Homo sapiens: one gene and its partners. The protein of the gene in region 2 interacts with the protein of the main gene of each other region in a pairwise test. Each region holds a gene or a part of one and is shown on either strand. Other genes may lie near its edges.

What was found.
Region 1: the proteins of AJUBA (region 2) and TFAP4 interact in binary tests that used the Homo sapiens proteins (3 or more experiments, as listed by UniProt).
Region 3: the proteins of AJUBA (region 2) and ZNF512B interact in binary tests that used the Homo sapiens proteins (3 or more experiments, as listed by UniProt).
Region 4: the proteins of AJUBA (region 2) and FARS2 interact in binary tests that used the Homo sapiens proteins (3 or more experiments, as listed by UniProt).

The regions. Positions count from the first base shown.
Region 1 is NC_000016.10:4,256,686-4,263,048, forward strand, and holds the end of TFAP4 (transcription factor AP-4), read right to left. Parts: intron 6,017-6,363; coding exon 5,851-6,016; intron 5,738-5,850; coding exon 5,639-5,737; intron 5,265-5,638; coding exon 5,094-5,264; intron 3,911-5,093; coding exon 3,770-3,910; intron 3,561-3,769; coding exon 3,405-3,560; intron 1,565-3,404; coding exon 1,370-1,564; 3' UTR 501-1,369; downstream 1-500.
Region 2 is NC_000014.9:22,979,534-22,986,725, reverse strand, and holds the start of AJUBA (LIM domain-containing protein ajuba), read left to right. Parts: upstream 1-4,174; 5' UTR 4,175-4,459; coding exon 4,460-5,465; intron 5,466-7,192.
Region 3 is NC_000020.11:63,959,931-63,966,955, reverse strand, and holds part of ZNF512B (zinc finger protein 512B), read left to right. Parts: coding exon 1-80; intron 81-174; coding exon 175-815; intron 816-947; exon of another isoform or gene 948-1,400; coding exon of another isoform or gene 1,401-1,444; intron 1,445-1,452; exon of another isoform or gene 1,453-2,051; coding exon of another isoform or gene 2,052-2,092; intron 2,093-2,239; coding exon 2,240-2,466; intron 2,467-2,560; coding exon of another isoform or gene 2,561-2,564; coding exon 2,565-2,636; intron 2,637-2,738; coding exon 2,739-2,885; intron 2,886-3,042; coding exon 3,043-3,167; intron 3,168-3,245; coding exon 3,246-3,338; intron 3,339-3,515; coding exon 3,516-3,614; intron 3,615-3,690; coding exon 3,691-3,861; intron 3,862-4,174; coding exon 4,175-4,369; intron 4,370-4,581; coding exon 4,582-4,683; intron 4,684-4,951; coding exon 4,952-5,014; intron 5,015-5,548; coding exon 5,549-5,647; intron 5,648-6,816; coding exon 6,817-7,025. UniProt on the Homo sapiens protein: Involved in transcriptional regulation by repressing gene expression. Associates with the nucleosome remodeling and histone deacetylase (NuRD) complex, which promotes transcriptional repression by histone deacetylation and nucleosome remodeling.
Region 4 is NC_000006.12:5,362,512-5,369,536, reverse strand, and holds part of FARS2 (phenylalanine--tRNA ligase, mitochondrial), read right to left. Parts: intron 988-7,025; 5' UTR 967-987; coding exon 355-966; intron 1-354. UniProt on the Homo sapiens protein: Is responsible for the charging of tRNA(Phe) with phenylalanine in mitochondrial translation.

The DNA of each region.
Region 1 (6,363 bases), on a different chromosome or scaffold from region 2:
CTGGCAGACCAATTCCAGGATCTTAGCACTTAAACACCACACCACGGGGGGGCAGGGGGGTGCTGGGGGGGTGCGGTTGGAGGGGGTGGGGTTCCCCTCCTAGGGGAGGAGAGGATGAGGCTCAGAGAAGTTACAGAAGCCCAGGAAGTGGCAAAACCTAGGGATTAACCAAAGCGTAGGGACCAAGCAGGGCCCCTGAACACCTGTGTCCTTTCCCAGGTTTTCGGAATCGGTGGCTTGGTTGTCCTTCTCTCCTTGCCGCCCACCAAAGAGCCACTCCCCAGCCTCAACACCATCTTCCATCTTTACAGAATACCCAGGGTCATCCCAGGGAAACTGAGGACCCCAATTTTTCATCGCAACACCACACACAAGCTGAGGGAGTAACTGTGCTCACACACACCCAGTCCGCTTTGGGGGGCCCAAGGAGCCCCCCTACTCTAGATGGGGTAGCCCTGCCCTGGTCTTCAGGCCAGCCCACACCCAGGAGACTCAGAATCTAAAAAACAAAGTACAAACTTTATTTTGTTTCTTTACAAAGGCACGGTGGCCTCTTGGTTTTTTTCTCCCCACTTTCTTAACAAAATATAATAGCTTCTCCTTGAACACGAAGACCTCAAAATTGTAAAAAAAAAAAAAAAAGAAAGAAAAAAAAGAAAAACAAAACAAAAACAGAAAGCAAACCAAAAAGAAATAAAAAACCAACAACAAACAAAACAAAAAGAGAGAGACAGACATTTTTGGGGTGGAAGATGAGACCTGGAGGCAGAGGTGGGGGCTGGGGGGTGGGAGAGTGGCGAATTCTAGTGCCGAGATGGGGAAGGGGGAGGGGGGCACAGCAGCAGCAAACCCCAACCAAGAAGCAACGGAGACCTCCGGGCCCCCAGAATGCCCCAGCCTAGTCTTACCCCCAACCATGTAAGTGCTTAAAGGAGAAAGAAGAAAACCCAAAAAGAGGAAGGAAAGGGGATTGAAGGCTGACAATCCCAGGCTGGCTCTGGGCAGGGAAGAAATAACCTGGGGTTTTGTTTAATTTTCCCTGTTCTTAAAAAACATATTTAAAGGAAAAAATGCTTTTTGGCAGAGAGAGGCCAGGCATCTCCGTGTCAGCTTCCTCCAGCCCCCGGGGCCGAGGCCCCGCCCTGGGGTGCCGATGCTCCCACACGCTCTGCGACACCCCAGCCCCGGGACCTCGGGTTGAGTGGCTTCGTTCAAAGGTCGATTTACAGTATTGAAAAAGAGGTCATAAAAGAGACCCAAATGACATCGTAATTTTGTAAAAATTTCTCACTCATTCGCCCATGTCTCTCCCTGTGGCTGCCCCGGCTCCCTCCAGCCCCCAGAAGGGAGAGGAGGGCTGGGGGGGTAGTCAGGGAAGCTCCCCGTCCCCCGACGGCTCCTCCCGGCTCTGGTCCATGGCGTCACTGTCTGAGGCCTCGGAGTCGGAGGCGGTGTCAGAGGTGGGGGCCTCCGGGCAGCTGCGGACAGGCTTCACGATGACAGCTCGCCGCTGCTCCTCCTCCAGCTCCTGCTTTTCCTGGGTGCCCTCGATGTGCTGGATTGCCTGGACAGGGACGAACCACTGAGAAGGCTCGGCCGGGGATACATGGCCAGCCAGGAGACAGTGGGGGCTCTCAGCCAGCCACTGTCACCCCCAAAACACATAGCCCAGAAAAAAGCCTGGCAAAGCAGCAGGGGAGGCCCGCTAGAGTACAGGAAAAACAAACTCCTTTTACTTTTTTTTTGGAGACAAGCTCTCGCTATATCACCCAGGCTAGAGTGCAGTGGCATGATCATAGCTTACTGCAGTCAGACTCCTGGGCTCCAGCGATCCTCCTACTGCTCCCTCCCTAGTAGCTGGAACCACAGGGGTGCGCCACCATCCCCAGCTAACTTCTGTATTTTTGGTAGAGACGAGGGGGTTCTTGCTATGTTGCCCAAGCTGATCTCGAACTCCTGACCTCAGGCAATCTTCCTGCCTCAACCTCCAAAAGTCCCGGGATTACAGGCATAAGCCACCACGCCTGACCCAGGAACAAACTTTCAAAACCCCTCTGTTAAGTTGAAAAATCCATTCTGGGAAGATGACAGTCCCAGTGCTGCTTAGAAATTATATTATATGTATCAGCCAGGCGCAGTGGCTCACGCCTGTAATCCCAACACTTTGGGAGGCCAAGACGGGAGGATCACCTGACGTCAGGAGTTCGAGACCAGCCCCTCAACAGAGGCCAGAAGCCTACTAAAAATACAAAATTTGCCAGGCGTGGTGGCACATGCCTATAATCCCAGCTACTTGGGAGGCTGAGGCAGGAGAATCACTTGAACCTGGGAGGAGGAGGTTGCGATGAGCTGAGATAGCACCATTGCACTCCAGCCTGGGCAATAAGAGCGAAACTCTATCTCAAAAAAAAAGAAAAAAAAAGAAATAATATGGACCTTTCATATGTTTTTGTTTGTTTGTTTTTTGAGAAAGAGTCTCACCGTGTCACCCAGGCTGGAGTTCAGTGGTGCAATCTCAGCTCACTGCAACTTCCACCTCCCATGTTCAAGCGATTCTCCTGCCTCAGCCTCCCGAATAGCTGGGATTACAGGCGTGCACCACCACGTCAGGCTAATTTTTGTATTTTTAATAGAGATGGGGTTTTCACCATGTTGGCCAGGCTGGTCTCGAACTCCTGACCTCAAGTGATCCACCCACTTTGGCCTCCCAAAGTGCTGGGATTGCAGGTGTGAGCCACCACACCCGGCCATATGTTTATGTATTTTAAAGCTTGCCTATTAACTTATTAAAGGCGTTTGTTATTAATTGTATTACACAATTTGCAAAGTTTATGAGCAATTAAAATTCGAGGAGATTGATGGATTTTTTTTCCTGTTTTGGCTTTTTTGGTTATTTATTTATTATTTACTGATTTCTGATCTTGGGCTCCTCAAGGGGCCCTGTTCAAGGGTGAATGCAACTGTAACTTCAGGCTTGACCCACAAAGCTTCCTCCTCTGTAGGAGGCCCAACTATCACCAGCCCTGCCACCTGTATCTCCATCCAGGTCCTAGGAGATGGAGCTGAGACAATGTTCCGGACCAACCCAAGAGCTGGATGCAGGAACTCTGTAACCAGGGGGCTCTGGGAGCAAAGGACCCTCTCCGGAAACCCCATATTGAGGGAAGGGACAGTCTTCCTGGCCAACTCCTCCTACTGGCGTGGTAGGCCCTGCCCCGATCTCTGGCCCTCACATTCTCCACTTGCAGATCCAGGGACGGGGCCCCCCAAGGCTTCCAGCCCTCCACCCCTTCCCACACAAGCACCATCTTCCTCCGCTTCTGCCCCTCTTTTCCAGTCTCCCCTAAAGAGCCTGTTCCCGGAGTATGACCCCCACAAGCTGCCCCTTTCTCAAGCTCAGGTACCTGCACGATGGTGTCCAGATTTTGCCGGGATGTGGAAACAGAGTTGATGACCGAGGAGGGGCCCATGGTGACGACATTGATGTGGTGGGAGGGAGGAGGAGGCGGTGCTGGCACGATCACCGTGGGGTGGTGGGTGGGGGCCGGAGGGGGCAGAAGCTGCAAGACAGAGGCCCTCAGCCTTTCTCTCAAGGCTTCTCTTGGCCCATCCACCTCCCTTTCATGCAGAGCTGGCCAATGTATAACTGCCTCTGCCCCTTTATATTAAGAAGCAGAGAGGACGTGGCCTAGGGAGAGGCTTCCGCCATTCAAGATCACCTGTCCCCTTCCCGGTCCCCAGAGCCCACTCCCGGGCGCCTCCTGCTCACCTGGGTCCGCAGCTGCTGCTGTTCCCGCTCCAGCTTCTCCTGGTGCAGCAGCCTCACCTGTTCCTGCTGCTGCTGCAGCTGCACCTGCTGCGCAATCACCTTGAGCTTTTCCGGGTACATGTGGGCCTCCAGCGAGCGCACCTGGAGGCAGGACAACCTGGGCTCAGGGCCAAGGCCGGGAGCACACCCTGCCCTGTCAGTCTCACAGCAGCTCATTCACTCCTGCTGAAAACCCTAGCACAGGGCGGGCCCCTCTCAACAGAGGCCAGAAGCCTTTCCAGAGCCCTTCAGCCCCCGGCTCCTCTCGCCTCCCACCTCGGCCTCCACTGGACCATGCTCCCTCCTGCCCGAGTCTTTGCCTATGCTATTCCCTCTGCCGGGAACACCTTTCTCTGTCCTTTGGTTAACTATGAGACTCAACTTCCCACTTCCATGGAGATGCCGTGGGGCGTCCCTTGAAAAACCCCTCCTGATGCCACAGCTCCAGCCTGGCCTTCAATATGGTTTTTTGTTTTTGTTTTTTGGTTTTTTTGAGCCATGGTCTCCTTCTGTCACTCAGGCTGCAGTGTAGTGGCACAATCATGGCTCACTGCAGCCTCCACCTCCTGGGCTCAAGCAATCCTCCCAGCTCAGCCTCCTGAGTAACCGGGACTACAGGCACACCCCACCACACCTGGCTAATTTTTGTATCTTTTTTGGTAGAGACAGAGTCTCACTATGCTTCCCAGGCTGATCTCAAACTCCTGGGCTCAAGCGATCCTCCCACCTCAGCCCCGCAAAGTGCTGGGATTATAGGTGTGAGCCACCATACCCAGCCCATCACGGTTACATTTTTTTTTTTTTGAGATGGAGTCTCGCTCTGTCTCCCAGACTGGAGTGCAGTGGCACGATCTCGGCTCACTGCAAGCTCTGCCTCCCAGGTTCACGCCATTCTCCTGCCTCAGCCTCCCAAACAGCGGGGACTACAGGCACCCACCACCACGCCCGGCTAATTTTTTTTTTTTTTGTATTTTTAGTAGAGACGGGGTTTCACCGTGTTAGCCAGGATGGTATCGATCTGCTGACCTCAGGTGATCCACCCGCCTCGGCCTCCCACAGCATGGTTACATTTTTGAGATCCTTTGGCTAATCTCCCCCACCCCAACGCAGACGGTGGCCCCCAAGGGCAGAGACGTGTCTGGCTTGCTCCCCACTCCTAGGCCTGGCACCGCAGTAGGTGCTCCTGTAAATAGGGCTCCACCGAGGGCCGCAGAGCAAGAGGCGCGACCCCAGGCTCCACGCCCTCTGCACCGCGCGCCGTGCCCAGCAGAGGGCGCTGCCTCACCTGCTCCTCCAGCATCATGCGCACCGAGCGCTCCTTGTCCAGCTGCTGCCGCAGCTCAATCATCTCCCGCCGCAGGTCCTCCGCCTTCTCGTCCTCCCAGATGTCCGGGGAGCCTATGCCTTCGTCCTTGTCCTCTGCCCGCCGTCGCTTGGGGGACGAGCCGCTCAGCTCCTGGGGACCCCAAGGAGTCGGTCAGTGTGCCTGACACCTCGGTACCACCACGGAGATTGGGGTTCCATCGCAGCCCCCCAAAGCTGCCCAACACAGGTGAATCTTCATTAGGGAGCCCCTTCTGCAAGTCCAACAAACCAGCCAAATGCCAGGAGAATGGGCTGCTTTACATAACAGTCACCTGGCTCCTTCCAGAGCCCACTCCACCGCACTTGACCGATGGGGAAACTGAGGCCGGGGCAGGAAAAAAAGTGCCTGGAAGTACTTGTCAGTGGGCAAGAAGGGGCCTGCAGCCACACCTGAGTCCCAGGCCCATGGCTGGGTCCAAGGCATGCCCATGCCAGGGAGAGGGAGCCATGAAGGACAGGGCGCACCTGGATGAAGCGCTTGAGCTGTGTGTTCTGCTGCAAGAGCCTGGTCTTCTCCTGCTCCAGGGAGAAGATGTACTCGGCTGTCTGCTGGAGAATGGCTGCCTGAGGGCGTGGAAAAGCCGAGAGTCAGGCTGGCAGTGTTTACCAGAGCTCACTTTCCTCTCCCAGCGGGAACCTGCCGGCTCCTCCAGGAAGCCCTCCCTGCTCTCACCCACCTTGCTGAGCTTCTCTCCGTCTGTGTGGGGGATGAGGGTCTTGAGGGACTGGAATCCCGCGTTGATGCTCTGCATGCGTCTCCGCTCGTTGCTGTTGGCGATCTCCCGCCGAATCCGCCGCTCCTGGTCCCGCTGAGTCTCGGGGGTTAGTGGAATGTTGGCAAGGCTGCCAGAGAGGACAGGGACAGGCTCGGCCAAGGCGCCCTCTTCATCATTCATCTCCAGAGGGCCCCAGTGGAAACTGCATCCCTCCCCTGCTGCAAAAGATGCCAGGCCACCCCCAGAGAGTGATGGAGGGGTGCTCTCTGGGACACCGGGGCGGACTGAATCAGCTGGCTGCGGGTAAGATAGTCCGCTCAGAACCCACCCCGGGCCAGGCACAGTAATCCCAGTTCTTTGGGAGGTCAAGGCCAAGGATCATTGAGCCTAAGAGTTTGAGATCAGCCTAGGCAACGTAGTGAGACCCTGTCTCTACAAAAAAATAAAATTAGCCAGGTGTGGTGGTGCATGCCT
Region 2 (7,192 bases):
TGAGTCTTCTGACCAAGGGAACACAAGTTCTATCACTATTGGGGAATTGGGTTCCTGATATAATAGCTATTGTTTATTGAATTACATGAGGAAAATTTTACTATTCCTATCTTACAGATGAGGAAATTAAGGCTTAAAGAGTTCCCGTGTCTCACCGGCAGCCTCTCTCTCACTATGTGACCAAGCAAAATACACAGCTTTGTAGCTGTTTCTTGGTCCTGTCAGCCAAGCTGTATTTTGAGGAAGGGGTGTGCATTTTGGATGGATTGAAAAGCAAAAATGGCTTTACATTTATTCAGTCTTATAACAAACATTGATCGCTTTACTAGGTGTCAGGTACTGTGCTATGGATACATTGTTGATAAGGTTGGATGCTGTTCAGAGATTTTTTTAGTTTAGTCAGGAAGCCAGGCAGTGGAGTAGGCAATGAAATGAACTGTGATAAGGGTGACCATGGTGGAGTGTAGTGCACTATGGCAATATACAGCAGGGGTAGCTAACCTACTCTTGCAGTCTGGAAAGGCTTCTTCTGAGAGGGTGTAATGTCTAAACTGGGGAAGAGTTAACCAGAAGGAAAGGGGAGGCTAAGAGAGTGTTCCAAACAGGGAACTGCAGGTACAAAAGTCCAGGGGCAAGAGAGAGTACAGACAAGGTCCAGTTCTACTGCAGACTTTTGGGGAAGGGATAATGCTAGAGGAGAGGCTGGAGAGTGAGACAGACCTCATAATACAGAGTACAGACTTCAACCCAAGGGCAGTGAGAAATCATTGAAAGTTTGTTTTAGCAGGGAAATAAAACGACAGGTTTTGCCTACAGGCAGTCCCCAACTCAACGATGGTTCGACTTAGGATTTTTCAACTTTACGATGGTGCGAAATGATTCAGTATGCTCCTCACCTTATGATGCAGTTATATCAGATAAACCCATTTTAAGCTGAAAATATGGTGAAGTTGAAGAAGCACTTCTGCCTTACGATATTTTCAATTTATAATGGATGGGTTTATTCAGACATAACTCCATTGTAAGTCGTAAAGCTTCTGTACTGAAAAAAATCACTTGACCTCAGGGTATAAGATGGATTGCAGGGAGCAAGCCTTGGCCAGGAGACTTTTGCATTGGTTTCGGAGAGGAAAGACGGTGACTTGACATATATAGTGGTGATGAGGGGAGGACAGATTTGGAAGATGTTTAGGAAGCAGAATTAATAGAACTTGGTGATTGATAGGACTTGGTTGGATTTGAGGTTAAGGGAGAAGGAGGACATAGGGTTGACGCTCAGATTTCTAGTTTAAGCAGCTAACAGGATTGTGCCATTTACTCAGAGAATGTTAGAGGAGCCAGTTTCATGAGGCAGAGAAGATGAGATCAGTTTAGGATATTGGGTGCTTCTGAGACAGCCATTGGAGATGCTAGTAGTTAGTTGAGTTTTTAATTCCAAGAAAGACTGGGCTGGAAATATGGATTAGGGAGTCACCTGCATATACAGATTATAATTAAAGTCTTGGGAACGAAGAGGGCCTTTGGAGATCCCAGCTCCAGTTTAGACTGTGGAGAGGCCACCTGAGGTCATGAGCACTATTGGAGCATGCCCTATTAGCATATGCGTCTTCTACTTCTTCCCCTTCACTCATCTCTGCTTCCAGTTATCCCTTGAAAACACAGGCTGTTCATCCCAGTTGTGCCCATTGCTACCACCAACTCTTGCATGGGCCTCCTTTAATGGCCTCCCAACATTTCATAAGATTTCCTCTCGCATCCTCACCCCAAAGGATCAAAGCTTCCAAATATTAGTAGTTGTGTGGATATTTTGGATGTAATTGGAAGGAAGAATCAAAGTTCTCCTTCCTCATCTGGACACAGGAAAGGAGGGAACACATTATGGTTAATTCTGAAGATGTTGCTCACAGCAGGTTCTAGATGCAATCCGATAGCTCCCCTCTGTTCCTAGTGCTTTCAGTCCTCCCTGCTTCCACTCTGGTAGGAAACTCTCCTCAGGATCAGAGAAAAGCCGTGGCCTTGACCAGGGAAACAGAGGCTGATTCTCAGGGGAGATGAGGTCAGGGAGACAATGCAACTAGGACGAAGAAGCCAAATAGTTTGGCACAAATTAATTTCCCAAAAGATATTAACCTCGTTTCTTTCCACATTCCCTAAGGCTACACTAAGATTATAAAAGGTGTTCAAAATGTTGAGATGAAAATAATATGCATGACTTGTTTGCATATAATTTTCATACTCATTTACTATCTAAATACAAAGGAGTCATTTTCCTTCTCCATTCTACTTCCTCCACCCCTTGCCCCTGATGTTTTAGTCTGGGCAAAAGTAGTTGGCTGGTTTTTAAAAAATTTTTTTGAGACGGAATCTCCCTCTATCGCCCAGGCCTGAGTGCAATGGCACAATCTCGGCTCTCTGCAACCTCCGCCTCCTGGGTTCACGCGATTCTTCTGCCTCAGCCTCCCAAGTAGCTGGGACTACAGGTGCACGCCACCACACCGGCTAATTTTTGTATTCTTAGTAGAGACGGGGTTTCACCATACTGGCCAGGCTGGTTGCAAACTCCTGACCTCGTGATCCCGCCGCCTCTGCCTTCCAAAGTGCTGGGATTACAGGCGTGAGCCACCGCTCCCGGCCGTTGGCTGGTATTTAATTAGGTATGTTTAGCTTCATCTAGGGTTTCTTTAAAAAAAATTATTATTTATTTTTGAGAATTTTTTTGAGACGGAGTCTTGCTCTGTCGCCCAGGCTGGAGTGCAGTGGCCGTGATATTGGCTCACTGCAACCTCTGTCTCCCGGGTTCAAGCGATTCTCCCGCCTCAGCCTCTCGAGTGGCTGGGACTATAGGCGTGCGCCACCACGCCTGGCTAATTTTTGTATTTTTAGTAGAGATAGGGCTTCACCATGTTGGCCAGGCTGGTCTGAACTCTTGACTTCAAGTGATCCGCCCGCCTCAGCCTCCCAAAGTGGTGGGATTACAGGCGTGAGCCACCGCGCCCGGCTGCTTCAGCCAGGGTTTCTTTTCCTTATTCTTGATCCTTTTAAAATAGTCAATATCAGCCTCTTTTCCATCCTGATCATTTTCATTTGCAATTTCCTCTACACGGCATTTCTTTTCTTCCTCTTAATACTTACTCTGTATCACCAGTCTTCTGTGGACCAAAACCAAAGGGAGAAGGTGTTCGCTAGCCCTAAAACCAGGCCTTCGATCTCCACAGTCACCTGAAATGAGAAAAATCTCATTTCCCAACACCAGGGGGTGTCTATCCCTCTAACTGTCCTACCCTTAAGGTAGAGATTAGTCCCAAACCTTTTCCTCACTCCTTTTCACTGCTTCTACATACACACTATATCTCTTTCCCTCCCTCTCAAAGTAGAGATTAGTCCCATTTTCCTGACTCCTTTTCACTGCTTTTACAAATCACAAAACTTTTGGGTCCAGAAGGTGGTGCCTTTTTATTGCAGTTTATCTGTTTGTCTCTCATTCTCTCTGGACAAGCTTGTCCTTTCCTTTGTCTGCGCACCCTTCGGTCTCTGCATCGTCCACACTCCTCTTTGCTCCTCAGCTCTCCCTTTCTTTCGCTACCTCTTCCCTCTTCCACCTCTCTCTGTGGGCTTCGTCGCCTTTCAGGGCTATCTTTACGTACACGTCTCTGAACCTCTTTATGCATTTGTCTTCTTTCTCTCTGTCTTCCTCTTTATGGCTCTCTCCTTGTCTCACCATTTCTGTACCAGTCTCTCTCCATCTCTCCCACAGTCCCCACGCTGGGAACAAAGTCACGGTGCTAGCGCAGAACATGCCTCCTGTCGTCCGGTCCCGGGACGCGACACATTCCACCATGCCCCTCCGCGCATTCCAACTGCAGACAAAGAGTCCCCGTCCCCTACCCCCACACTCTTTCCTATTCCAATTCTTCAGTGTTGTAGGGGCAGCTGCCCCAACTGCCCCTGCCCGCCTCTCACGTCCAGTCCGCGGGTCTCCACATCCAGGGCAGTTAGCGCCTTCCGCTGCACGCACACCAGCTATCCCTGCGCGGACACCCCCGGCGCTCTCGCACACACCGCGCTCCGCCCCCCTAGGAAAGTAGATCCGGCCAGGCAGACAAAAGTTTGGGAGAGAAGTTCGGTCTGTGGCTAGCGTGAGAGCTAGGGGGGCGGGGGCCGGGGAGAGTGGGGCAGTCGGGCGAGTCGACGCGTGAACAGATAGACCTGCGGACTGGACAGCCGCGGCCAGAGACCCTGCTAGCCCCGCTCAGCCCCAGATGCGCGGGGGGACGCAGCCCCTCCCGCTGGGGGATGCTGTGGGATTCCTGGCGCAGGGCATCCAGGCCGCCCGCTAAGCCCCTGTGCCTCCCCTGTGCCCCTGGGGAACCAGAGTCCGGCTGCAGGGAAAGAGAACCGGCCGCCGAGACGCCGCAGGGTGCCAGGCGGGGAGGGGGCGAGAGGCCCCAGGCCCGAGGGCATGGAGCGGTTAGGAGAGAAAGCCAGTCGCCTGCTGGAGAAGTTCGGCCGCAGAAAGGGTGAATCTAGCCGGTCTGGGTCTGACGGGACCCCCGGGCCGGGCAAGGGGCGCCTAAGTGGGTTGGGGGGACCTAGGAAGTCAGGGCCCCGAGGAGCTACTGGGGGACCTGGGGATGAGCCGTTGGAGCCGGCCCGGGAGCAAGGTTCCCTGGACGCTGAGCGAAATCAGCGCGGCTCCTTTGAGGCGCCGCGCTACGAAGGCTCTTTTCCCGCGGGGCCGCCGCCCACCCGGGCCTTGCCTCTACCTCAGTCGTTGCCCCCCGATTTTCGGCTGGAGCCCACGGCCCCGGCCCTCAGCCCCCGCTCTAGCTTCGCCAGTAGCTCGGCCAGCGACGCGAGCAAGCCGTCCAGCCCCCGGGGCAGCCTGCTGCTGGACGGGGCGGGGGCTGGCGGAGCTGGAGGTAGCCGGCCCTGCAGCAATCGCACCAGCGGCATCAGCATGGGCTACGACCAGCGCCACGGGAGCCCCTTGCCAGCGGGGCCGTGCCTGTTTGGCCCACCCCTGGCCGGAGCACCGGCAGGCTATTCTCCCGGAGGGGTCCCGTCCGCCTACCCGGAGCTCCACGCCGCCCTGGACCGATTGTACGCTCAGCGGCCCGCGGGGTTCGGCTGCCAGGAAAGCCGCCACTCGTATCCCCCGGCCCTGGGCAGCCCTGGAGCTCTAGCCGGGGCCGGAGTGGGAGCGGCGGGGCCCTTGGAGAGACGGGGGGCGCAACCCGGACGACACTCTGTGACCGGCTACGGGGACTGCGCCGTGGGCGCCCGGTACCAGGACGAGCTAACAGCTTTGCTTCGCCTGACGGTGGGCACCGGTGGGCGAGAAGCCGGAGCCCGCGGAGAACCCTCGGGGATTGAGCCGTCGGGTCTGGAGGAGCCACCAGGTCCTTTCGTTCCGGAGGCCGCCCGGGCCCGGATGCGGGAGCCAGAGGCCAGGGAGGACTACTTCGGTGAGTGAGAGAAGTGGTTAGGGACGGGAAGGGACCCGTCACGGTATTCGGTTCTCCACTGCCCCGACGGCCCAAAGTGCCGGTGCCCCGGGGTCCGAGGTGAAGACGCGGGACTAGGAAAGAAGCAAGAGGGATGGATGGGGGCGGCCCCAGAGCACTGTCCCCTTCCTGCTAGTTTTCAGATGAACCAGGGCTCCTTATTTCTGCTAAATTCAACCCCCCTGGTATCTCGTGAGTCCGTTTCTCAAGCATTTGAACCTCGGTTTTTTGCGGCAGGAGGCCTCGTAGGGAAGGGACCAAGTGGGGCAGTGAAGGCGCATCCCCCCCAACTTGCTCCCCCCTTTCACGGCGGTGCCCCTGGAGGTTTGTGCGCGCCGCGCCCCCACCCGGGCCCAGGCTCCGCCCGCAGGAATTCGGAGAATGCGCGGGTGGGGGGGCGGGGCAGGCTGGCCGCGTGCGTGCCGACTCCTGCCCGGGCGCTCCAGGTGCCCGCGGGCGGGGCGGCTGCCGCCGCGCGGCGGAGGGGTGGGGTTCGGGGATCGGGGGACGCTCCCTAGCATACGCGGAGTAGTGGCGGCTGTCGGGGAAATGGAGCCTGGGAGACAGGATGGAGCGCCCTGGGACCCAACTGCTGTCCCTCCCCAGTCCTGTTGGCTAGGTGCGTGCGTGGGCATTTAATCAGAGACCCAGTAGTACCAGCTTCTATTTTCCCCATCCTCCGGAAGTCAGGGTAAAAGTCATGACTACTGGGACACCATTACCTCTGGATGGATAACGACCCTGTGTTATTGCCAGAAATAACTTGGCCTTGAATTCTGCTTATAACCTCTCAGAATTCAGGCCAGAAGTAGCGCCTTACTTCCTGACACTGTTAAGGAAACCTGGTCGCTGTCTCCCTCCCCTACTCTGTTCAGGAAGTATTGATTGATTATATGTCTCAGCTATGAGGAACATTAGGGTCTTGAAAGATCTTTTAGTCAAAATTCACAGGCACTGCTACACACATAAAAAACTTCGAATCTGATTGTGATTGGAAAGAAGTGGCAGGCTTACCGCCTAAGGGCTGTGGGCCTCTTTCACTTTTCTAAGCATCTCTTCTTACCACTCATGCCCCACTCCTGGACCCCATGCTGTAGAACTCTATGGCTAGAAAAGTGAATAGGAAGAGGAACGCGGCCAGGGAGGGATGGTTGGGTAGGAGGTTCAGAGGTAGCAGGGCGGCAGGCTATAAGGGCATAACTCAACCCCCAGCCTCCACCCCCATTCTTTTCCCCACCTCCAAATCCACCGAGAGGAAAGCCCAGAGGAGATGATGCCAAACCGCTTTGATCAAGGAAGACTGAATGACAGGGCCCATTTAGCAGTTTCATTTTGAGGCCCAGGAGAGGTGGCTAGTAAAGAAGTCTTTTTGGCTGAACCATCAGAGCCAAAAGGAAGAAAGGAACTCAGAGAAACTGCAATAAAATGGCAGGAAGAACATAGGTATAGATATGCTGGGTTAGAGGAGGTGAGGCCAACGTGCCTGAGCAGTTTCGTTTGCTTTTCCCATAACGTCCAAGGTTTCCTAAAGAATGGCTCCGACAGGACCCCCTGGCATGGCAATCTTGGGGCAGATCTTCACTTCCATGAGGAAGCCACATTTTGAATTCAGAGATGGGGGCCCCTTCTCCTTGGGAGTCAGGTTGCCTCCTTTGACAGAACCCCTACATACCCCTTGTGCCGCTAGC
Region 3 (7,025 bases), on a different chromosome or scaffold from region 2:
TGAAGTGTCCAAACTCAGGGTGCTGGCTGGAGTTCCCCAGCATCTACGGGCTCAAGTACCATTACCAGCGGTGCCAAGGGGTAAGGGACTGTGGGTCGGGGGAGAGGAGGCCTCGGGGTGTGTTTGGGCAGAGGCCCTTGGGGCCCTGTCCCAAACCTTCCCTTCCCTGCCCAGGGTGCCATCTCAGATCGCCTGGCCTTCCCCTGCCCCTTCTGCGAGGCCGCATTCACCTCTAAGACCCAGCTGGAGAAACACCGGATCTGGAACCACATGGACCGACCCCTGCCTGCCTCCAAGCCTGGGCCCATCAGCAGGCCGGTCACCATCAGCCGGCCTGTTGGGGTCAGCAAGCCCATCGGAGTGAGCAAACCTGTCACTATTGGCAAACCTGTGGGTGTCAGCAAACCCATTGGCATCAGCAAGCCAGTCTCGGTCGGCAGACCCATGCCAGTCACCAAGGCCATCCCGGTCACTAGGCCCGTGCCAGTCACCAAACCTGTCACAGTCAGCAGGCCCATGCCCGTCACCAAGGCCATGCCGGTCACCAAACCCATCACAGTCACCAAGTCTGTGCCGGTCACCAAACCCGTACCTGTCACCAAACCCATTACGGTAACAAAGCTTGTGACAGTTACGAAACCCGTGCCGGTCACCAAGCCAGTGACAGTCAGCAGGCCCATTGTGGTCAGCAAGCCGGTGACAGTCAGCAGGCCCATTGCTATCAGCAGACACACACCGCCCTGCAAAATGGTGCTGCTGACCAGGTCGGAGAACAAAGCACCTCGTGCCACAGGGAGGAACAGTGGTAAGAAAAGGTATGGGGGCTCGTCCCAGGTCGGGGAGGAACAGTGGTAAGAAAAGGTATGGGGGCTCGTCCCAGGTCAGGGAGGAACAGTGGTAAGAAAAGGTATGGGGGCTCGTCCCAGGTCGGGGAACAGTGGTGAGAAAAGGTATGGGGGCTCGTCCCAGGTCGGGGAGGAACAGTGGTGAGAAAAGGTATGGGGGCTCGTCCCAGGTCAGGGAACAGTGGTAAGAAAAGGTATGGGGGCTCGTCCCAGGTCAGGGAACAGTGGTGAGAAAAGGTATGGGGGCTCGTCCCAGGTCGGGGAACAGTGGTAAGAAAAGGTATGGGGGCTCGTCCCAGGTCGGGGAGGAACAGTGGTAAGAAAAGGTATGGGGGCTCGTCCCAGGTCGGGGAGGAACAGTGGTAAGAAAAGGTATGGGGGCTCGTCCCAGGTCGGGGAGGAACAGTGGTAAGAAAAGGTATGGGGGCTCGTCCCAGGTCAGGGAACAGTGGTGAGAAAAGGTATGGGGGCTCGTCCCAGGTCGGGGAGGAACAGTGGTGAGAAAAGGTATGGGGGCTCGTCCCAGGTTGGGGAGGAACAGTGGTGAGAAAAGGTATGGGGGCTCGTCCCAGGTCGGGGAGGAACAGTGGTAAGAAAAGGTATGGGGGCTCGTCCCAGGTCGGGGAACAGTGGTAAGAAAAGGTATGGGGGCTCGTCCCAGGTCGGGGAACAGTGGTGAGAAAAGGTATGGGGGCTCGTCCCAGGTCAGGGAACAGTGGTGAGAAAAGGTATGGGGGCTCGTCCCAGGTCGGGGAACAGTGGTGAGAAAAGGTATGGGGGCTCGTCCCAGGTCGGGGAACAGTGGTGAGAAAAGGTATGGGGGCTCGTCCCAGGTCGGGGAACAGTGGTGAGAAAAGGTATGGGGGCTCGTCCCAGGTCGGGGAACAGTGGTGAGAAAAGGTATGGGGGCTCGTCCCAGGTCGGGGAACAGTGGTGAGAAAAGGTATGGGGGCTCGTTCCAGGTCAGGGAACAGTGGTGAGAAAAGGTATGGGGGCTCGTCCCAGGTCGGGGAACAGTGGTGAGAAAAGGTATGGGGGCTCGTCCCAGGTCGGGGAGGAACAGTGGTGAGAAAAGGTATGGGGGCTCGTCCCAGGTCAGGGAACAGTGGTGAGAAAAGGTATGGGGGCTCGTCCCAGGTCGGGGAACAGTGGTGAGAAAAGGTATGGGGGCTCGTCCCAGGTCAGGGAACAGTGGTGAGAAAAGGTATGGGGGCTCGTCCCAGGTCAGGGAACAGTGGTAAGAAAAGGTATGGGGGCTTGTCCCAGGTCGGGGAACAGTGGTGAGAAAAGGTATGGGGGCTCGTTCCAGGTCAGGGTGCTCCTCGGCCACGGCCTGGGGGTAATGGGGCCCACAGTTAGGCCCTCCTGGCCCTCACCTCACCTGCTCCCTGCAGGGCTGCGGACAGCCTGGACACCTGCCCAATTCCACCCAAGCAGGCCAGGCCAGAGAATGGGGAGTACGGCCCCTCCTCCATGGGCCAGAGCTCGGCCTTCCAGCTGAGTGCAGACACCAGCAGTGGCTCCTTGTCGCCAGGCAGCAGGCCGTCAGGGGGCATGGAGGCACTGAAGGCTGCAGGCCCTGCGTCCCCGCCTGAGGAGGACCCGGAGCGCACAAAGCACAGTAAGATGAGAGCTCCAGGGGTGGCGGCCGGGGCAGGCTCGGCCTCCTGACGGTTATTTCACCAGAATCTTGGCCCCCGTTTTCTCTCCCCGAGTCAGGAAGGAAACAGAAAACACCCAAAAAGTTTACAGGGGAGCAGCCATCCATCTCAGGGACCTTTGGGCTCAAAGGTAAGACCCCAGCCCGGTGTGCACCTCCAGGGCTGGGGCTGTCCACCGAGTGACAGCCCCTGAGCCCATCCCTGTTTCTCTCCACCCCATGTGTGCACACAGGCCTGGTCAAAGCTGAGGACAAGGCCCGAGTTCACCGCTCCAAGAAGCAGGAGGGGCCAGGCCCTGAGGACGCCCGGAAGAAGGTGCCAGCTGCCCCCATCACTGTCAGCAAGGAGGCACCGGCCCCTGTGGCCCACCCAGCTCCAGGTAGGGGCTGCCTGGCAGGGGCTCAGGGCAGCTCTAGACGGCGGGTAGATCCCACAGCACAGGGATGGGGGCTGAGTGTGGAGACTGGATTCTGTGCCTGGCGTCTGGGCCACCCAGCAGCCCCCACAAGCCTTCGAGGCCCCTGCCTTACCCACAGGTGGCCCTGAAGAGCAGTGGCAGAGGGCCATCCATGAGCGCGGGGAAGCCGTCTGCCCCACCTGCAACGTGGTCACCCGGAAGACTCTCGTGGGGCTTAAGAAGCACATGGAGGTGTGTCAGAAGGTAAGGCAGCTCCCGGAAGGCGCTGGGAGGGAGGCGCCCTGGCCCCAGGCAGGCTTCTCACATGTGGGCCATCTGCAGCTTCAGGATGCACTCAAGTGCCAGCACTGCCGGAAGCAGTTCAAGTCCAAAGCCGGCCTCAACTACCACACTATGGCCGAGCACAGTGCCAAGGTACCGTCGGGCCCCCAGCTCCCGTCCAGCGTGACCTCTGACCTCGCACCCCACCTTCACCGCAGTGCCCCCGGTTTCTAACCTCGGACAACGGTGGCCCAACACCTGGGCGGGGCGGGGCCAGGGCAGGGCTCCGTGGCGATGGTGCCGGGTCACCGATGCTCACCCTGTCCCCAGCCCTCTGACGCCGAGGCCTCCGAAGGGGGCGAGCAGGAGGAGCGCGAGAGGCTGCGCAAGGTGCTGAAGCAGATGGGACGGCTGCGCTGCCCCCAGGAGGTCAGTGGGGGGCCGCGGCAGTGTGGGGTGGGGGGGCCCTGCTGGCCACTCACCCACCCTCTGGCCTGACCCCCAGGGTTGCGGGGCTGCCTTCTCCAGCCTCATGGGCTACCAGTACCACCAGCGGCGCTGCGGGAAGCCGCCCTGCGAGGTGGACAGCCCCTCCTTCCCCTGCACCCACTGTGGCAAGACGTACCGATCCAAGGCTGGCCACGACTACCACGTGCGCTCGGAGCACACGGCCCCCGTGAGTGGCTCTCTGTTCTGTGGCACAGTGCTTGTTCCTGTGTGCCGTGTGTGTTCCGTGTGCCTTGGGTGCCAACTGTATTTGTCCATGTACCGCCCAACGCGTGTGTTTCCCACCCCTCTCTGTAAGAGACGTGTGTCCTGGTGGGCGGGAGGGTGAAACCTCCGTGTTCCCTCGGGTTGCCTGCGTCAGCCATGTCCCCAGCACACTGGGAGGCCTGTGGGTCCACCGGCCTTAGGGTGGCCTCGCCGCGCGCTGACCTGACTCTTGCTCCCGCGGCTCACTCTAGCCTCCATGCCTTCCTGCCCTCCAGCCCCCTGAGGAGCCCACAGACAAGTCCCCTGAGGCTGAGGACCCGCTGGGTGTGGAGCGGACCCCAAGCGGGCGTGTCCGCCGCACGTCGGCCCAGGTGGCGGTGTTCCACCTGCAGGAGATAGCGGAGGACGAGCTGGCCCGCGACTGGACCAAGCGGCGCATGAAGGATGACCTTGTGCCCGAGACCGCACGGGTGAGCTGCCCCCCCCAGGGCTGTGGACAGCGCCGTGGCCTCTGCGTGGGGCATGCCTTGGCCTGAGACTTGGGACAGCCACTGCTGTGACCTGGGCCACCCGCTGCCCCCGCCATCTGCGGCGAGTGTCGCCTGCTGCCGAGGCGAGTGTTCTTAGAGCAGCTGGGGTGTCTTCTGGCCTCAGGCTCACCCTGGTGCTGTCGAATTCACAGCTCAACTACACTCGACCAGGGCTCCCCACGCTGAACCCCCAGCTGCTAGAGGCATGGAAGAATGAAGTGAAGGAGAAAGGCCACGTCAACTGTCCCAACGACGTGAGCGGAGGCAGCCGGGTGGGGGGCGTGGGGAGCCATACAGGGCCAGAGCCTGGGTGTGGCCCTCTGAGCAGGAACAGAGGCTGAGAGCTTTCAGGAGGTGCCCAAGCCCACCCCAGGCCTCACATGCCCAGCCTGCCCAGTCCCCAGGACTCACACCCCCTCACTTGCCCCAAAGAGCCTCAGAGATCCCCTGGGGTAGGGCAGGGGTATATCTTGGTGTGGGGTGCCCACCAGAGGCCTTCGCCCACGGCTCCCTTCCCTGCAGTGCTGTGAAGCCATCTACTCCAGCGTGTCCGGACTCAAGGCTCATCTCGCCAGCTGCAGTAAGGTCAGTTCTGGGGCCTGCCCCACGGCCAGGTGCGCTGCACTCAGAGCTCCCAGCTCACCCCACGCGGGCTTCCCACACAGTAGTGAGGGACCCTGCCTTGTCCCCTACTTTTTCTACGTGGCCTCCTCTTCCACGAACCCAGAGACTGGCCGGTGGCTGATGGCCAGCCTAGGACACCTCCCTCGCCCCAACCCCAGCCACAAGACAACGAGTCCTAGTCCTGTCCTTGGAGCTCTGCGTCCATGTAGGCATGGGTGGGCACCCCGACCCACGCAGATGGCACACTGGCTTACAATAAGGGATGCTCGGCAAAGGTCTGCAACTCTTCCCCTGGGCACCTGCCTCTCCCTACCCTTCCTCTCCCCTACCACCCCTGCCGCCCTGGTAACTCAGTGGCCCCCTGCATTGTCTGGCACAGACAGCCACAGCTTTCCTTGGGCCACCGCTGACTCTGACCCTTTAGCCATGAGTAGGGGCTTAGGACAGATCTGGGTCCTCCAAGGGCTGGGGCACTGGCCTGCCTATGCATTGCAGGGGGCCCACCTGGCAGGGAAGTACCGCTGTCTGCTGTGTCCGAAGGAGTTCAGTTCTGAGAGTGGCGTCAAATACCACATCCTGAAGACCCACGCAGAGGTGCGAGGGCCATCACCAGGGCCTGTGGCTGGGGGCTAGCCCAGGAGGGGACAGGGCTGGGGTTGGGCACCCCTTGGGGGTAGAGAGGTCAGTGGCCTGCATGGGGTGTGCCTGGGAGAGTGGCCAATGTGGAGAAATCTGGTAGTTTCTCCTCAAAGTGGGGTCTGGCTTCCCTGGGAGAACTGGGAGGCTTGCACCCTGAGCTGGAGCTGCCCTCGGGGTGTCCGCCTTTCCAGCCCCCAGCAGCCCTGCTGCAGGTGCTTGCCTGGTCCCGAAGGCTGTGTCCAGCCCTGCTGCAGGTGCTTGCCTGGTCCCGAAGGCTGTGTCCAGCCCCCTGCAGGTGCTTGCCTGGTCCCGAAGGCTGTGTCCAGCCCCCTGCTGCAGGTGCTTGCCTGGTCCTGAAGGCTGTGTCCAGCCCCCTGCTGCAGGTGCTTGCCTGGTCCTGAAGGCTGTGTCCAGCTCCCTGCAGGTGCTTGCCTGGTCCTGAAGGCTGTGTCCAGCCCTGCTGCAGGTGCTTGCCTGGTCCTGAAGGCTGTGTCCAGCCCTGCTGCAGGTGCTTGCCTGGTCCCGAAGGCTGTGTCCAGCCCCCTGCAGGTGCTTGCCTGGTCCCGAAGGCTGTGTCCAGCCCCCTGCTGCAGGTGCCTGCCTGGTCCCGAAGGCTGTGTCCAGCCCTGCGGCAGGTGCCTGCCTGGTCCTGAAGGCTGTGTCCAGCCCTGCGGCAGGTGCCTGCCTGGTCCTGAAGGCTGTGTCCAGCCCTGCGGCAGGTGCCTGCCTGGTCCTGAAGGCTGTGTCCAGCCCTGCGGCAGGTGCCTGCCTGGTCCTGAAGGCTGTGTCCAGCCCCCTGCTGCAGGTGCTTGCCTGGTCCAGAAGGCTGTGTCCAGCCCTGCTGCAGGTGCTTGCCTGGTCCCGAAGGCTGTGTCCAGCCCTGCTGCAGGTGCTTGCCTGGTCCCGAAGGCTGTGTCCAGCCCCCTGCAGGTGCTTGCCTGGTCCCGAAGGCTGTGTTCAGCCCCCTGCTGCAGGTGCCTGCCTGGTCCTAAAGGCTGTGTCCAGCCCTGCTGCAGGTGCTTGCCTGGTCCTGAAGGCTGACAGGTCTTCAGCTCTCAGGCTATGCCTGGCTCAGGTGCTCAGCATCCAGTCCCAGGTCTTCATCAGCGCTTTTCTCTCCCCAGAACTGGTTCCGAACATCAGCAGACCCACCTCCCAAACACAGGAGCCAGGACTCATTGGTGCCCAAGAAGGAAAAGAAGAAAAATCTGGCAGGTGGAAAGAAGCGGGGCCGAAAGCCCAAGGAGCGGACCCCAGAGGAGCCTGTGGCCAAGCTGCCCCCGCGCCGGGACGACTGGCCTCCAGGATGCAGAGACAAGGGGGCCCGGGGCTC
Region 4 (7,025 bases), on a different chromosome or scaffold from region 2:
AGGTTTCCATGTTGCACCTTCAGCCATCCTGGATTAAAGGTGAATTTGAGCCACAGACTATTCTCCATTCATAAGAAGTAACCCAGAGAATGGCGGGTCAGTATTGAGAGAAAGGATAAGGACAGACAACTGGAAACTAAGGCTTACCAATTTCTGTAGTTACTAACACAACAAAGCGGTCAAAAAGTACTGGGGCACACCTATACACAAGATGTCATTAAGTATGGATGATTCACTAAGGCAAAATAAGGCAAGCAAGGATGACTATGCTGGTCTCATCGAGCTAAATGTTAGTGACCTCAACATAAAATGTCTATGACATCCTTCAGCGATGAGAAACATCTCAAGACTCACCTCATGCTTGGAGAAGAGCCGCACGGCCTCCAGCTGGTGGAAAATAGGGTAGTGCTGGGAGTCGATCTGGTCACGCCTGTAGACATCACCCACCACCAGGAAGGCATCCAGTCCCGCGTGCAGCAAGTCCCACTGGTGTGCAGACGTGTGCGCTCTCAGCATGTGAGTCCGATTCAGGTAATAGTTGTCCCCCTTCTTCCTGCTGGGGTGATCAGCTGGGATGAGCAGGCTGTCAAAGTTCTGCCAGGTCGTGACCACTGGAGAAAGGTTGTCGTAGACCGAGAACAACGGGGTCCCAAAGCGGCCCACATACTGCTTGTAGAAGTGCTCCTTCACCCTCTCCTTGATCAGCCACAGAGGGTGATGCTGCTGGTTGTGCAGGTTCCTGCCAACTCTGGTGAGGACCTTCCGGGTGAGGTTGCTGTGGTCGTCCTGAGGGTAGGATTTGCCCAGCAGCTCCACCACACTGCCTGGAGCTCTTTGGGTGGCACACTCTGCTGCAGGAGGCCTCGATCCCCAGGCCTGGTGCTGATGGCCTCTGGAGATGTGACTGGCCTTACTCACCAGGTAGACATATGCATGGGCACCTCTCCTGAGAGCTGAGCCCACCATTGTAGAAACTTCTCACAGGTTCTGGAAAGAGCACACAGGCAAAGCACAAGTCAGGTGTCACTCTGTGGAAAGCAAGTGTGTTCTTTGCATCTCCCACCAGCTCCCTCTTGTCCTACTGGCATGTTTCCCCCACTACGACCTCCACACAGCTGAAAGAGCCAATTAAAGAAATCTGACAGACATGTGATACTTAATACACTAAATGAAAAGATTCCTGGAAGTCACTTTTATATCCCTAATCTCTAGTTGTCCTTCCTTTGTCATTCAGATCCTTGGCTTTGTAGAAAACCTCGTTTATTATGTTATCATGTCCTGAACTCGTGATGTGGAAAAAAACTGTAAACACGACAACCTTTACATTATAGAACCAAAAAACTTCAGAGAGATCCCCTAAAATACAGAACTTAATTGGACCCTATTAAGGGTCCCACTAATAAAGGAAGCAAATGATTAGACAGAGGCTTCCGAAGGAGAGTGGAAGAGAAGAGATTTAAGAGCCATCCTTCACATTTCTGCCGACCATCCTCATAACTACAGAGTTCTCTTTATCTTTGACATAGCATAACTTCTGTATTACTTCACTAGATCACAAAGTGACATTACTAATTTTTTTAAAAAGTTTTAAACAAAATACACCACTTTAGATTGTGGTTAACTTTAATATTTTAAAGATAAAATAGAAAATCTCAGGAAATATTGTACAAAGTGATAGACTATATCAATGGACAGCTGTAAATGCAAATCTTCTCACATCTGGTCATGTCACTTAAACTTAATACCTTTGTGGCATCCTCTCAATTACACCTTTGGCAAAAGGGCAAATTTCTACTACACACCCACAATTAACCAGAAACAGGACTAAACTTGTTGGGGAAGAGTGACAGAGCAGCCAGAAGGCAGAGCACTGACCTAGATTTTTAAGTAAATAAAATGCCAAACTTTACAGCTGAAAGTCACCTCAGCTGTCATCTAGTATAGGCGGTTCAAGTCACGGATGAGGTGAGAAGGACCTAAGTATAACTGGCAAAACTCTAAGGTATTGAAAGAGTTCAATAAGACAACCGCAAAGGGCTGTGAACCACTCACACAGTGTCTTCTTCCCACTGCCACAGAAGCCAGTTTTAAACTCACTCAGGGATCCCAATAAGGAGAGTCTTGAGATGTCACATCCCATTGTTCACAAATAATTTACATTCACAAACTTAAATTATAAAAATCCATCTTCTAAAATGTGGAATTCTTCCCTACCGGGCTATTTTAAAGCATACAACTATGTGGCTGTTTTACTTCAAGGGCCGTGCAATCATACCAAGAAAATATGTAACTTCATGATATGAAGCTGCATTAGCAAAGAATTATATTGTTCCAAGTCACTATCAAAAGCACAGTCTGTCCCTGGACAACACAATCCACCTGACTCCAAATTGGAACTGAGGAAATCTAGCTGCAAGTTGAATGGCTGTGCTTGTGTGTGATTGCTTCTTAGAAGCTGTGCACAGCACCTTTGTCTGAGACTGTCATCATGGGAGACATTTTCAAAGATACCCAGGAACTCTCTGGTTTTATTCACTTATGGCGTTATTTTGTCAGAGTTGTTTCAAAAGGGCTTTTGGCTGAGCTTCAACTGAAATGTCTTCCCATCTAGTGTTCAGTGACTTGTCACTGCAGTGGATATGAATTTTAAACATGCATATGCAGCCTTACACATCTTGGCACAAAATCAAACTGTTAGGTTATTAGCTACCTAGCTCAGCACCCTTGCCAAAACACAAGAAAAGCTTTCTTCCTCCCAAAGGCATATGTGTTAGACAAAGTTCAGAATTGTTCTCGGAAAGGTGCTTCTGATCCAGTTATTTGTGGGCTGCTGTCGATGCTTTTCCTTCCCAGTTTCCAGCTCTTCACACATCCAAACCCACACTTGGGTTCCATTCCCAGGGATGTGCCCCAGCCTCGTGTCCCTTCCTTGCTCTCCTCACGCAACCCCCAGCTTGCCGATGAAAGTTTGAGGTTCTTGCCCTGGTTTTCAGGCCTTCTATCTATCTGCTCAGCCCTGCTTACATTCTCCACTGTCATTCACCCCACACAGAAAAGTATCTGTCCTTTCTGTTACTATCTCTAACAGAGAGAGATGGATGACTAGGAGAGCCTTCCCACTTCTATCTGAGAAGTGACTTCCTTTCCTTCTACCTCTATCGAATTTCTCTATAAGAAATATATCATCTGGAAATACATAAGAGACCCAGGAGGATAAGACCAACGACATTCATACTTCTATTAATACATTGTTCTTCCATTTCATCCCTTCAACAGTTCTGTGATGTAAGTATTGTTCGTACCACTTTACCAACAAAGAATATAAAGCTCAAAAAGATCACGTAACTAGCATAAATTCATATGCCTAGCTAGCCATGAGACAGTTCAGAATTCTTGGCAATTCAAATATAGCTGACCCTCAAACAACATGGATTGAACTGTGCAGATCCACTTACATGCAGATTCTTTTCAGTAACAGTTACACTGAGTGTGCCTGCCCTTCCTGCCTCCCCTTCCGCCTCCCCTATCTCTTCTACCTCTGCCACCCCTGAGAAGGCAAGACCAACCCCTCCTCTTCCTCTTCAGCCTACTCAACATGAAGATAAGAATAAAGATCTTTAGGATGATCTACTTCCACTTAATAAATAGTAAATACATTTTCTTTCCTCATGATTTTCTTAATAACATTTTCTTTTCTCTAGTTTATTGTAATACAGTATATAATGCCTATAACATACAAAATATGTGTTAATCAATTGTTTATGTTATCAGTAAAGCCTCCAGTTAACAATTAATAGTTAAGTTAGGGGAAGTCAAAAGGTATACAGGAATTTTCAACTGACTGAGGGAGGGTAATCAGTTGTCCAGGGGTCAAGTGCATTTCTCAGTAGGGTGTGGTGGCTCACGCCTATGATCCTAACACTCTGGAAGGCCAAGGCGAAAGGATCACTTGGGCCCAGGAGTTTGAGAGCAGCCTGGGCAACATGACAAGACCCTATCTCTACAAAAAAAAAAAAAAAAAAAAAATTTTATTTAATAAATTAGCCGGGTATGGTGGCACACACCTGCAGTCCCAGCTACTGGGGAGCTAAGGCAGGAGGACTGCATGAACCCAGGAGTTCAGGCTTCAGTAAGCCAGGATTGCACCACTGCACTCCAGCTTGGGTGACAGAGTGAGACTCTGCCTCACTAAAAAAAAAAAAAAAAAAAAAAAAAAAAAGAAAGTATACTTCTCAATCAAAGGTCCAAGATTGTTAAGTTCAAATGGTATCTCTGCAAGGACCTCCCTTAACTTCTATTTTATCTAATTGAGATTATACATCAATGTGTTTTTAAATACATAAATAAATGCATGAATAAGTAAATCCAATAAAACACATTAGCTTAGATAGTAAAAATGAAATAAGTATTTACAGACCCAAGGGCCAAATCTGCCCACAGTAGTCTGTTTGGGGTTTTTTTTTTTGGCTTTGGCTTTTTTTTGTTTCTGAGACAGGGTCTTACTCTGTCACCCAGGCTGGAGTGCAGTGGGATGATCATGGCTTACTGGAGCATCAACCTCCCAGACTCAAGTGATCCTCCTGTCTCAGGCTCCAGTGGCTCCCTGCCCCAGAGATAGCTAGGACTACAGGTGCAAGCCACTATGCCCGGCTAGCTTTTGTATTTTTTGTAGAGATGAGGTTTCGCCACATTGCCCAGGCTGGTCTCAAACTCCTGCCTCAAGTGAGCTGCCCACCTCAGCCTCCCAAAGTGCTGGGATTACAGGCTTAAGCCATCGTGCCTTGCCCATAGTCTGTTTTTACAAATAAAGTTTGTTGGAACACAGCAACAGCCATTTCTTGATTTATCATTTGCCATGGCTTTCTTGCTATCAAGGTAAGATTGAATAGCTGCTATAGAGATTGTGTTGCTCACAAAGCCTAAATACTCACTCTCTGGTCTGTTATAGAGTTTGCTGAGCCCTGTTTTAGCTTAACCTACTGAAAAATTTTTCTACACTATTAATAAAATCTTCCTAGTCACAAATATATGTAGATTATAAAGTCACAAAAAAGGAGCAAGAATACAAATGTGGACGTGAAGTATGTTAGCACTGGTACAAAAGAAACAATCAGACCAACTATAAGAAGAGAAAATACAATATAATGGGCAATAGGCCAGACTTCGCAGAGATACTAATGTTGGTTTGATCCTAGGTTGATCTCTTAGGTGCCATGTATCATCCTTAGAAACGTTATTTGACCCTTCTGGCCTCAAGGTTCTCATCTGTAAAACAGAGAAATATAATACTTATCTCATAATGAAAAGATTATACTAGATCATGTTCATCAGCTAATTAACTCATTGCCCAGTGTGTAACGGGTAAGATGAGCTGAATTCAGGGTTAAAAGTGACCCAGAGATTTCTAGAGATCGGGTAACGGATGAACTAATAAAGTCATTCACTGACACAGAGAACTCAGAATGGATTTTTGTTGTTTGTTCAGATCATCTTTTGTAGAGGGAAACAGATTTGGACAATGGAAGTTCAGTATGAATGAGATAGCCACATTACAATTTCTGTAAGGCAATTCGAGTTATATTATAGTTTGGAAATGAGGTAAGACATTAATCCTGGAAATGTAGACCTTGGAGGTAATTTGCATAGACGTAAGAGTTAATATCACAAGCGTATATAAGAATCCATGGGAGGCTAAGAGCAAGATATAAGTGGGCAAAAGATAGAAGAATACTTGGAACTTATCATATTTAAGGGAAGGGGATGTAAGGAGTAAGACAGAGGGGACGTAAAGGGTGCCACAGCACAGAAGTCAGGGGAAAAGACATCTAGAAGGAAACGGGCCTGTTTCCTGGACCCAAATACCACTCAATGTGCAATGTTTAGCATGCCGTATTATTACTACCTGCTGTTGTCTGTATTCCTACTAGCCTGTGTGGTTCTTGAGAGTAGAACACACAAACACATATATATACACATACTCTTTCTCTCCTCTCTCTCTTATATTTATCATCGTATGCCCATAATCTAGCACTACATGTGATGCTGGGTGGAAGACGCGGGAAGAAGAGAAATAGGAAGAAAAAGAAAAGAATGGAAGGAAATTGGTCAGCAAAAACAAAACAAAGAAGGCTGCCTCTTTGGAAGGGGCAGTAAAGAACTATTTAAAAACTCAATAGAGTGAAGAGACAACTCACAGAATGGGAAAAAGTATTTACAAGCCATGTATCTGGGAAAAAGCTAATGTCCAAAATACATAAGGAACTCACGCAACTCAACAGCAAGAAAGCAAATAACTTAAAAATGGGCAAAGGGGCTGGGCGAGGTGGCTCATGCCTGTAATCCCAGCACTTTGGGAGGCCGAGGTGGGTGGAGCATGAGGGCAGGAGAACGAGACCATCCTGGCTAACACGGTGAAACCCCATCTCTACTAAAAATATAAAAAATTAGCCAAGCATGGTGGCGGGCACCTGTAGTCCCAGCTACTTGGGAGGCTGAGGCAGGAGAATGGTGTGAACCCAGGAGGCAGAGCTTGCAGTGGGCCGAGATCGCGCCACTGCACTCCAGCCTGGGCGACAGAGTGAGACTCCATGTCAAAAAAAAAAAAAAAAAGAAAGAAAGAAAAATGGGCAAAGGATCTGAATAAAGATTTCTGAAAAGAAGACATATAAATGGTCAATAGGTATGTGAAAAAAAATCCTCAAAATCACTAGTCATCAGAGAAATGCAAATCAAAAGCACAATGAGATAGATACACTTTACACCTGTTAGAACCGCTATTACCAAAAAGAAAAGGTAAGTGTTGGTGAGGATGTGGAGAAAAAGGAACCACTGTACACTGTTGGTGGGAATTTAGAGGAGTATAACCATTATGGGAAATAGTATGGAGGTTCAAAAAAATTTAAAAATAGAACTATTAACATATGATCCAGCAATCCCACTTCTGTGTATATAACACAGGAAATGAAATCAGCATGTCAAAGAGACATCTGCACCCCCTTGTTCACTGCAGCATTATTCACAATGGC